Regions from separate parts of the Homo sapiens genome. Here region 2 is linked to region 1. Evidence: fine-mapped expression QTL. Tissue or cell type: blood mononuclear cells. Region 1 holds a variant in brackets; the other region holds the start of a gene. Each region is shown on its reference strand, or each on the opposite one.

Region 1 (4,394 bases):
TATTCAGTGAAAGTTTGTGGAGTTAAACTACACAGACAGTGATGGTTAGAGGCTTTGGTTAAGAGTATGATAGTTAAATTGATAGACCAGGAATAATGTTACAACTGTAACATGTTGGTCTAGTTCATCATTAATATTTGTTGAATGGCTTCAGTGTGCTTTGTCCTAAGTTCTTAGCAAAGTGACTGATGAGTTTCAGAAAAATGAAGACTCAGATATATAAAGTGGAAGATGGTACCTCTCATAGGTTTTCTGAGTAACTGAGAAAAAGCATTTGTTTATTTTGTTAGTATTTTATTTTTAAAGTTTAATTAAGTTAAATTTTATATTTTATTTTAATTACCTGTCACTGACTTTAAGTCCAGTATTTTGCTAGTATTTTTAAACCACTGTTTCTGCTCTTCTTTCCTACCCACATACCTTTTTGTTTTCCTCTCTCCTAATCTGTCTTTACTTGGTAGTACATTTGGCCTGGTAGATTCAGATGGACCTTGCTATGCAGTGATGGTGTACAATATAGTGCAGAGCTGGGGAGTGCTCATTGGAGACTCTGTAGCCATTCCTGAGCCCAACCTGCGGCTTCACCGAATTCAGCACAAAGGAAAGGTGAGCAATGGCTAGGATTCTCTTACAACTCGTAGGCTCTAAAAGTAGAACCAAGCTTATCTTTTTATAAAAGATATAGAAATAATTATATGTAAGTATGTGTGTAGGCTATGTGTATATATATTTGTGTGTATATGTTTTATTTATATATATATATGTATTTTTTTACTAAAAAGGTAAACTGGTAAGCAGAAAAATAAAAAAATGCAGTGAAATATTATCACTCAGGTATTACTGCCTTTTAACTGTTACTGTTAACAGTTTGGTGTATATACCTGAAGTCTTTTCTTTTCACAAATATATACACATATATCTATATTTTAAATCATGAGTGGGATATTATATGCAAATGTTTGTGAATGTTTCCTATGTTTTTACATATTTCACCACATTGAGTAGACACGGGGTGATGAAGATGGTAATGATAGTTAACATTTATTTAACACTTAATTGAGTGCTAGACACTGTGCTAAGAGTTTTTATTACCTGCCTTGCCCCATTCAATTCTTAAAAAAACCTTATGAATGTAGATATTTAACTACTGTTTAACCATTTAGATCAGAGGTTGGCAAAGCCCATTGACCAAATCTGGCTCACTGCTTGTGTTTATTAATAATGGTTTCTAGGCTGGGCATGGTGGCTCATGCGTAAAATCCCAGCACTTTGGAAGGCCAAGGTGGGAGGATCACTTGAGCCCAGGAGTTTAAGACCAGCCTGGGCTATATAGTGAGACCCCGTCTCTACAAAAAAATGTTAAAAAACTTAGCCAGGTATGGTAGCACATGCCTGTAGTCCCAGCTACTAAGGAGGCTGAAGTGAGAGAACCACTTTATCTCAGGAGTTTGAGGCTGCAGTAAGCCATTATTGTCCCATTGCACGCCAGCCCGGGTGATAGAGAAAGTCTGCCTCAAAAAAAAAAGAAAAACAAGAGTGTGGTTTCTGTGTTGTTAAGTGAAAAAAATGGACAGAAGCGTAATATTTTGTGATATGTGAAAATTACAGGAAATTCAGATTTCAGTGTCCACAAATAAAGCTTTATTGGAACACAGCCACACTCATTTGCTTACTATTGTCTGTGGCTGTTTTTGCACTATAGTGTCAGAGGTGACTTGTTCTGTAACAGAGACCATATGACCTACAAAGCCTAAAATATTTACTATCTGTCCCTTTGCAGAAATACTTTGATGACCTCCGATCTAAATTAGTACTTTTATAATAGAAAAAAAATTAGAAACACAGTGAGGATTTTTGTATCTTTGCTTGTATCTATGATTAGTTCCTTAAATGAATTTCTAATGTAGACTCCTGGGTCCAAAGGGTATGCAGAATTCTGAGGCTTTTGATACATATTGCCAAATAATTCTTTGGAAAATTGTACTAGTTAGTTGTCACTACCAACAGTGGATGTAAATAAGTGTTTCTCTGTAGTTTTTTTCTCAACTCTGGTTGGAAACCTTTGAAAAGTTATTTTCTAATTTTACATGGAAAATATAGCATGAATATTAATTTATATTTCTTGTATAAATTGCCATTTTTTGTGTCACTTGTTGATATTTCTGTGAAGACTTAAAAAAAATTGGTTTATGAGAACTTTTAAATTTACTTTACTTGGACTTAAAAGAGCCTGCCTCTCATTGCCATATTTTTTGGATGAAGACTATTTAATATGTTTTACAACTTAAAATAC[A/T]CTTAAACTGATACAGTGAGCTGATACCTTTTTTGTTATTAGGAAAACGGCTACATTCTGTTTCATGTTCTATTTCCTCCTCTTGATATAAAAGAGAAGTAACTTTAATTTGTATTTGGTGGATTAAATTAGGACCTTATAAACATTTGGACTGAGATTTTCTCAGGATTCCCACTGGCTCTGGCCGGCTGCTATGTGTATCTAGTTAATTATCAGGAAACACCGTGGGAAAAGGCAGATTCTATGAGAGTTGGTTGCATTCTTTTGTTAGGCAATGCCAGGAACCTGCCTTTTTTGGATCAAAGAGCTGTCTCATTCTTGTAGTGGCACTACATGACCTTACATGCTCCATGTTTTCCTTCTGAAGATTGAAAACTTTGGGAAATTTTCGTCCCCTGTGTTAGCTCAGTTTTGTCTGATGTGAGATGGAAGTAGAGGGGGTATACAACAGGGGAGGTGGTGCAGAAAGTTGCAAGTGGTGTATCCCCATGCTGGAGCTTTTTCCATCTTGGAATCTGTAGTGAACCTTTGTCTGTCTGTCTTTTCTAGGACTATTCCTTTTCCAGTGTTCGAGTGGAGACGCCCCTCCTGCTAGTGGTGAATGGGAAGCCTCAGGGATCCAGCAGCCAGGCTGTTGCCACAGTGGCATCGCGACCACAGTGTGAATGACCTTTGACTTGCATGCTCAACAGGGAGTGGAGGAGAGGAGACAAGGCTCTGGACAGCCGGTCCAGCCACATCCAGTGATTCAGCAGGGATGGGAGGAATGTTTTAAATGAAGACTTTCTCTTTCCCTGCCTGTATTACACTTCGTATCTCTTCTCTCTCCTCTGTCCTCATCATGTTCCAGCTCTCTACAGGGCCACATACTCTTCTGGCATATCTCTCCTGTCTCTTCCACTGCTCTCTATGTTTTAAGCAAAGAGCATGGAATTGGTAGAAGTCTTGGGATCTTGCCATGGGACAGAGTCCCCAAGGTTCCTGTTGTTGCCTCCTTCCTAAGCCTCATATGTATATATCAGTTCAGTATTTATTGCTAAAGGAGGGGGCTTAATTTTGTAATGGCTTTTATTTTTAGCAATTTTTATTTTTATTTTTGAACTTTAGGTCCTTCCTCTTCTTTGGGGCTGGAACAGAATTAAATTTGTTTGGAAAAAAAAAAAAACACCACGTAGTTTGGCCTGCTTTATTCTCCCTAGGCCTGTATTCTTTGTTTTAGGATCACTTCAATTTATTGGAGTAATACCCCCATTTTTTTCTTTATACAAAGCAGTTTATTTCTCTCCCAGTTAAAAGAATTCCGACAATAGACAGCCCCAGGCAGGAATGGCAACTCCACAAAGTTGCTAGAGACCAGCTTTCTTCCATTTTCCCATTCTGTCATTCCCTAGGGGTGGTCTTCACTATGGTCCAAGATGACAGAGCAATACTGTTCTAATAGTGTTACTAGGCTGAAGGACCAGAGAGAGTTAGATAAATCCTCAGTTTCTTTAGAGTCTAGTGACATGTTTTATAACAGTTTATCTTAATATCCTTGTGGTAAAATGGAGAAATGTGAGTGAGGATTAATAACCAATTGAATTGGCCTGGCACGGTGGCTCAGCCTGTAATCCCACCACTTTGGGAGTCCAAGGCGGGTGGATCACGAGGTCAGGAGTTCAAGATCAGCCTGGCCAAGATGGTGAAACTCCGTCTCTACTAAAAATACAAAAATTAGCTGGGCGTGGTGGCAGGCACCTGTAATCACAGCTACTGGGGAGGCTGAGGCAGAGAATTGCTTGAACCTGGGAAGTGGAGGTTGCAGTGAGCCGATATCATGCCACTGCACTCCAGCATGGGCGACAGAGCGAGACTCCGTCTCAAACAGCAACAACAACTGAATGGCTGTAATACATTAATGTATACAGATGAATTGAGAAGTCTTCTAGTGAAATGGCTCAGATCTTTGTTCTTGGTCCAGTCCTGTTCAGTTTTTGATCAGTGCCTTGAATATCATTGATGACTCATTAAATTTATAAAGAGTGCAGAGGCCTCCTCAGAGAATGGATGGTAGAAATGCATTGATGAGAGAAGTTTTATCTATCTATCTGTCTATCTATCT
Region 2 (4,394 bases), not on the chromosome of region 1:
CTAGATGATGTCTATTTTCTTCCAGATCTAAAAAGTTGGTGATTCAGACTTGATATAAAATCTGTCTTAAGAATAAAGGTACCTTGTTTCACAAGAAATATTTTACACAAGTTGAATCATTTGTAATGCTCCAAAATAGCTTCTTATTTAAAAACTTAAATGGTGAATTATTTTGTAAATAAAAATATGTCTTAATTATCTAGTTTAATCAGATTTAATAAACTTTTGGGCACCTACTATGTGCCCAATAGTTTCAGGCTGTGTATAATTCCAAAGTAGAATAAGAATTTTGTCATCTTAGGCAGCATTGAGAACTTGATGTGGCAGGCACTATTCTACATGACTTATTCATTTAATTCTCACAACTCTGTGGTCACTAGTATTATTCTCATCTTATAAATGAAGAAATCGAAGCACAGAGATTTTATATACCAGTCCAAGGCTACTAAGCTTGTGATTGTGCTGAGATTCAAACCAGGCAGTCTGACTCTATCCACTATTCTTTTTTTTTTTTCCACCCCTTCCCTCTCCAATCCACTATTCTTGAAACACATAACAATTAGAAAATAGGATCTCATATAATAAAATACTAAATTATGCGGTACAGCACAATAGGAAACAGGACAAGGGAAAGAAAAAAAATGAGGCCGGGCATAATGGTTACACCTGTAATCCCTGCACTTTGGGAGGCTGAGGTGGGAGAATTGCTTGAGCCCAAGAGTTGGAGACCAGCCTGGCCAATATGAAGAAGCCCCGTCTCCACAGAAAATACAAAAATTAGCCGGGCGTGCTGGTGTGCACTTGTAATCCCAACTACTTGAGATGCTCAGGCTGGAGGATTGCTTCAGCCCAGGAGGTCAAGGTTTCAGTGAGCCAAGATCATGCCACTGTACTCCAGCCAGGGTGACAGAGTGAGATCCTGTCTTGAAAGAAAGAAAACAAAGAAAAAGAAAAGGAAAGGAAGGAAAGAAGAAAAAGAAAAAAATGTGAATTGGTAGGAAAAGTCAAAGAGAAAATAGAATTTCAGTTAGCTGGAATTTGCACAGATAAGGAAGAAAGAGTATTCAGGAATCCACAGTGTGAATACAGGAGGACTCTAGTGGGAAAAGGGAGTAGATGACAATGAAACTTGAATAGGCAAGGGGAGGCCAGACTGAAAGGTCTTTTATTCCAGGCCCCAAACCAATGAAAAAGATCAGAAGGTTCCTGAGCCGGAAGTAGGAAGGCCAAAACCTTAGCAGTATGTAGGACAAAATGAGAGGGAATAAAGCAGATTTTCTTGTATTATCTTTAGGAAGCAGGGAAGGCAGAGATTTTATTATTATTTTTTTTAACTGTTGCATTCCTCCTAGCATCTAGCAGAGTGCCTTACACAAAGTAGGGACTCATATATCTATGAGTGCCCGCATAAATGAAGAAACGAAGCGTACTTACAATGCAAATATTAACAGGATAAGAAATATTTAGCCAAGTACCACCCCTTCTGACACAGCAGAATACTTACAAGGGATCTGGGCCATTCCAGATCACCATCTTTCTTTCTGAAATGATATCCCAATCACTAGGGCTCTGTTCAGACAGTGACCTTGTAAAGCCCGAGGAGCACCCTAGAGAAGGGAACACAGGAGGAGCAGGAAAGGGAACACGGGAGGACCAACGCCCAGATCTCAGCGTGGTCGCCAGAATGACCCATATTAGTCATTTGGGGTTGCAGAAGAGGGGATGCAAGCCCATTCCCAGGACGGCCTCCACCCGGCGGGGCAATGAAGGGAAATGACTGACGTAGGGGGCTCCAGCGCAGGGGCCGAAGGAGATGCGACACCAGGGAGAGGGGCCCCGGGCACAGGCAGCAAGGAAAGAGGTCAGCGGAGTCTGAGAGAGAAACGATGAAGAGGGGAGACGGGCGCCGGGAGGGGGGCCGCCGCATACAGTTCCCCCGACACTCGCATCCTGGAAGGCACCAGCCCCTCACGACCAACCTGCCAGACGCTGTGAGGAATCCCCGGGTCAGAATGACAAGCCTCCGCGACAGTACCCACCGAGCCAAAGCTCCTGGAGAGCGCGCTGGAGAGCGCATGCGCCAGACCGGGCGCTTCCTCCACGTGGCCTGGAGCGTCGCCGAAACTACAGTTCCCAGAATGCCGCACGAGCCCGCCCCCAGCGGGAGCTGTGGGGCAGAGGCGCTGCTGTGGTTGGTCAGTCCAGTAAGAAGCCAGCAGGGCTGGTGCTGGGGCTTCTTCTCCTGAAGGGGCTGCAAGAGGGAAGGCTTAGCCATGTCGTCCTTGATCAGAAGGGTGATCAGCACCGCGAAAGCCCCAGGGGCCATTGGACCCTACAGGTAACGTGGCTGGTGGAAGCTGTGTCGGACCCAGGGCGTGCGGGTTCGGGGATTCGGGGTTGGGGCCACTCCGGGCCGGAGCCCCAGCTAACACGCAAGGAAATTGAGCCTGGAAAGTAAGCAACGCGCCCGAAGACCCACAGAGAGTTGGGAGCCACGATGGGACCAGGAACCTGCACTCCATGGGACTTTGCTCGTTCTGGGGCTGCCTCGCTGCGGAGCACAGCCTGCCAGAAAGCTCTCCCCAGTTAGAAGCCTTCAGACCCTGTGTTTTGTTTTGGGGGAGGGGGTCGTTTTTGTTTTCTTGGTAACAGCTTTATTGAGATATAATTCACGTACCGTAAGATTCACCCCCTTTAACATGTACAATTCAGTGGTTTTGACCATACTCACAGAGTTGTGCAGCCATCACCACTTTCTTCAGAACATTTTCATCACCCCAAAAATAAATCCCATCCCCATTAGCATTCACTCCCCATTCTCCTCTCCCCCGGCCCCTGACAATCTACTTGCATCTTCATGGATTTGCTTGTTGTGGACATTTCCTATAAATTGAATCATAAAACATGCAGTCCTTTATGACCAACTTCTTTCATTAGCTTCATACTTGGTCTGCCTCTCTCCCAACTGAAAAGAGCCCCATCAACAGCTCCCTCCTTTAAACCTACTGCTGTGAGAAAAGGCACTGAGATGTGGCAGAACAGGAATTATTATAGAAAACTTGGAAATAAATAAAATGCAGTAGAAGTGAGAGGGCAAGTGGGGTAGGGAGTAAAGGAGAAAAAAGACAAATTGATTTTAACTTGGGGTGGAAGAGGAAAAAGAAGATTTAGGAAGGTTCCTTGTGAGAGGTAGTCCTTTGGTTTTGAAGGTTGGTTTTGTCATTTATAGTAGTGTTGTAAAGTTTGATTTTTAAATTAATTTATTAAGGATTTCAACAGGAAGTCATTGAGTGAAGGGCATGGAGGTAGAAGTCAGGTAGAGGGAATGGCTTGAGTGAGGGCATGGAGGTAGAAGAATGCATGGTATAAAGATTTTGGGGAGAAAGTTTTCATAATTCAAGTGCTACTTCTGTCTTTTTTGTTTGTTTGTTTGCCAAATCTGTATATCACTTATAATTTACTTAACCTATTTCTTTGAGATGGCTCACTTCATTTTATTTAACAAGTTAATTGAAAAAGGAAACTTTACAACAGTACACTAAATAGAAAACAATTCAATAGAAAGTAATAGTAAAAAATAAACTCAATTAAAAAAAGGTATTATTAAATTTTAGCTAGATATTGCAGTTGGCTCAAAACCTGAGGCCTGCTCTCTCTTTGTTAAGAGTGATGTTTCTTTAGCCGGGTACTGTGGTTCACGCCTGTAATCCCAGCACTGTGGGAGGCCGAGGTAAGAGGATTGCTTGAGGTCAGGAGTTCAAGACCAGCCTGGGCAACATAGTGAGACCCCCATCTCTATTTAAAAAAAAAAAAAAGTTTAATTAAAAACTTTCAAGTGATGTTTTAATTTGTTTTCTAAAGATGATTTTTTTTCTCCTTAATGTAATCAAACGGGGTAGAGTCATCATTGCTAACATTTACTGATGCTTACTCAGCAGCATTGGGCACTATCCCTTTTTTTTTTTTTTTTTTTTTTTTTTTGGAGGCAGAGTCTCACTCTGTTGCCCAGGCTAGAGTGCAGTGGTGCAATCTCAGCTCACTGCAACCTCCACCCCACAGATTCAAGTGATTCTCATGTCTCAGCCTCCCAAGTAGCTGGGATTACAGGCAGGTGCCACCACACCCGGCTAATTTTTGTATTTTTAGTAGAGACAGGGTTTCACTGTGTTGGTCAGGCTGGTATTGAACTCCTGACCTAAAGCGATCCACCTACCTCGGCTTCCCAAAGTACTCGGATTACAGGTGTCAGCCACCATGCCTGGCCAGCACCAGGCACTGTTCTAAGTTATTTATGTGCATGGTTATATTATAGTCCCTATTTTTCAGATGAAGAAACTGATGTGTGCAAAATTAAATAATTTGCCAAAAGTTACACCACTAAAAAGTGATGTAAC

What was found. PIP is the estimated chance that this variant, and not a neighbour inherited with it, causes the effect. A credible set is the group of variants that fine-mapping cannot tell apart.
Region 2: it holds the start of POP1, and the variant in region 1 is the best candidate, but not a certain one, in a credible set for the expression of POP1 in blood mononuclear cells (TOPMed, PIP 0.58).

What each region holds. Positions count from the first base shown.
Region 1 is chr14:20,288,195-20,292,588 of GRCh38, reverse strand. It overlaps TTC5 (tetratricopeptide repeat domain 5), which reads left to right. Exons shown (of 10, transcript NM_138376.3): 9 at 462-606; 10 at 2,843-4,394. The coding sequence ends at 2,962. Among named protein-coding and RNA genes, the nearest start is that of TTC5, 16 kb to the left of the region's middle. The variant A/T (reference allele first, on the strand shown) is at 2,294.
Region 2 is chr8:98,114,976-98,119,369 of GRCh38, reverse strand. It overlaps POP1 (POP1 ribonuclease P/MRP subunit), which reads right to left and starts at 2,077. Exons shown (of 16, transcript NM_001145860.2): 1 at 1,980-2,077. RIDA (reactive intermediate imine deaminase A) reads left to right here and starts at 2,199. Exons shown (of 6, transcript NM_005836.3): 1 at 2,199-2,338. The coding sequence starts at 2,274. RefSeq lists enhancers at 1,805-1,974, 2,045-2,094.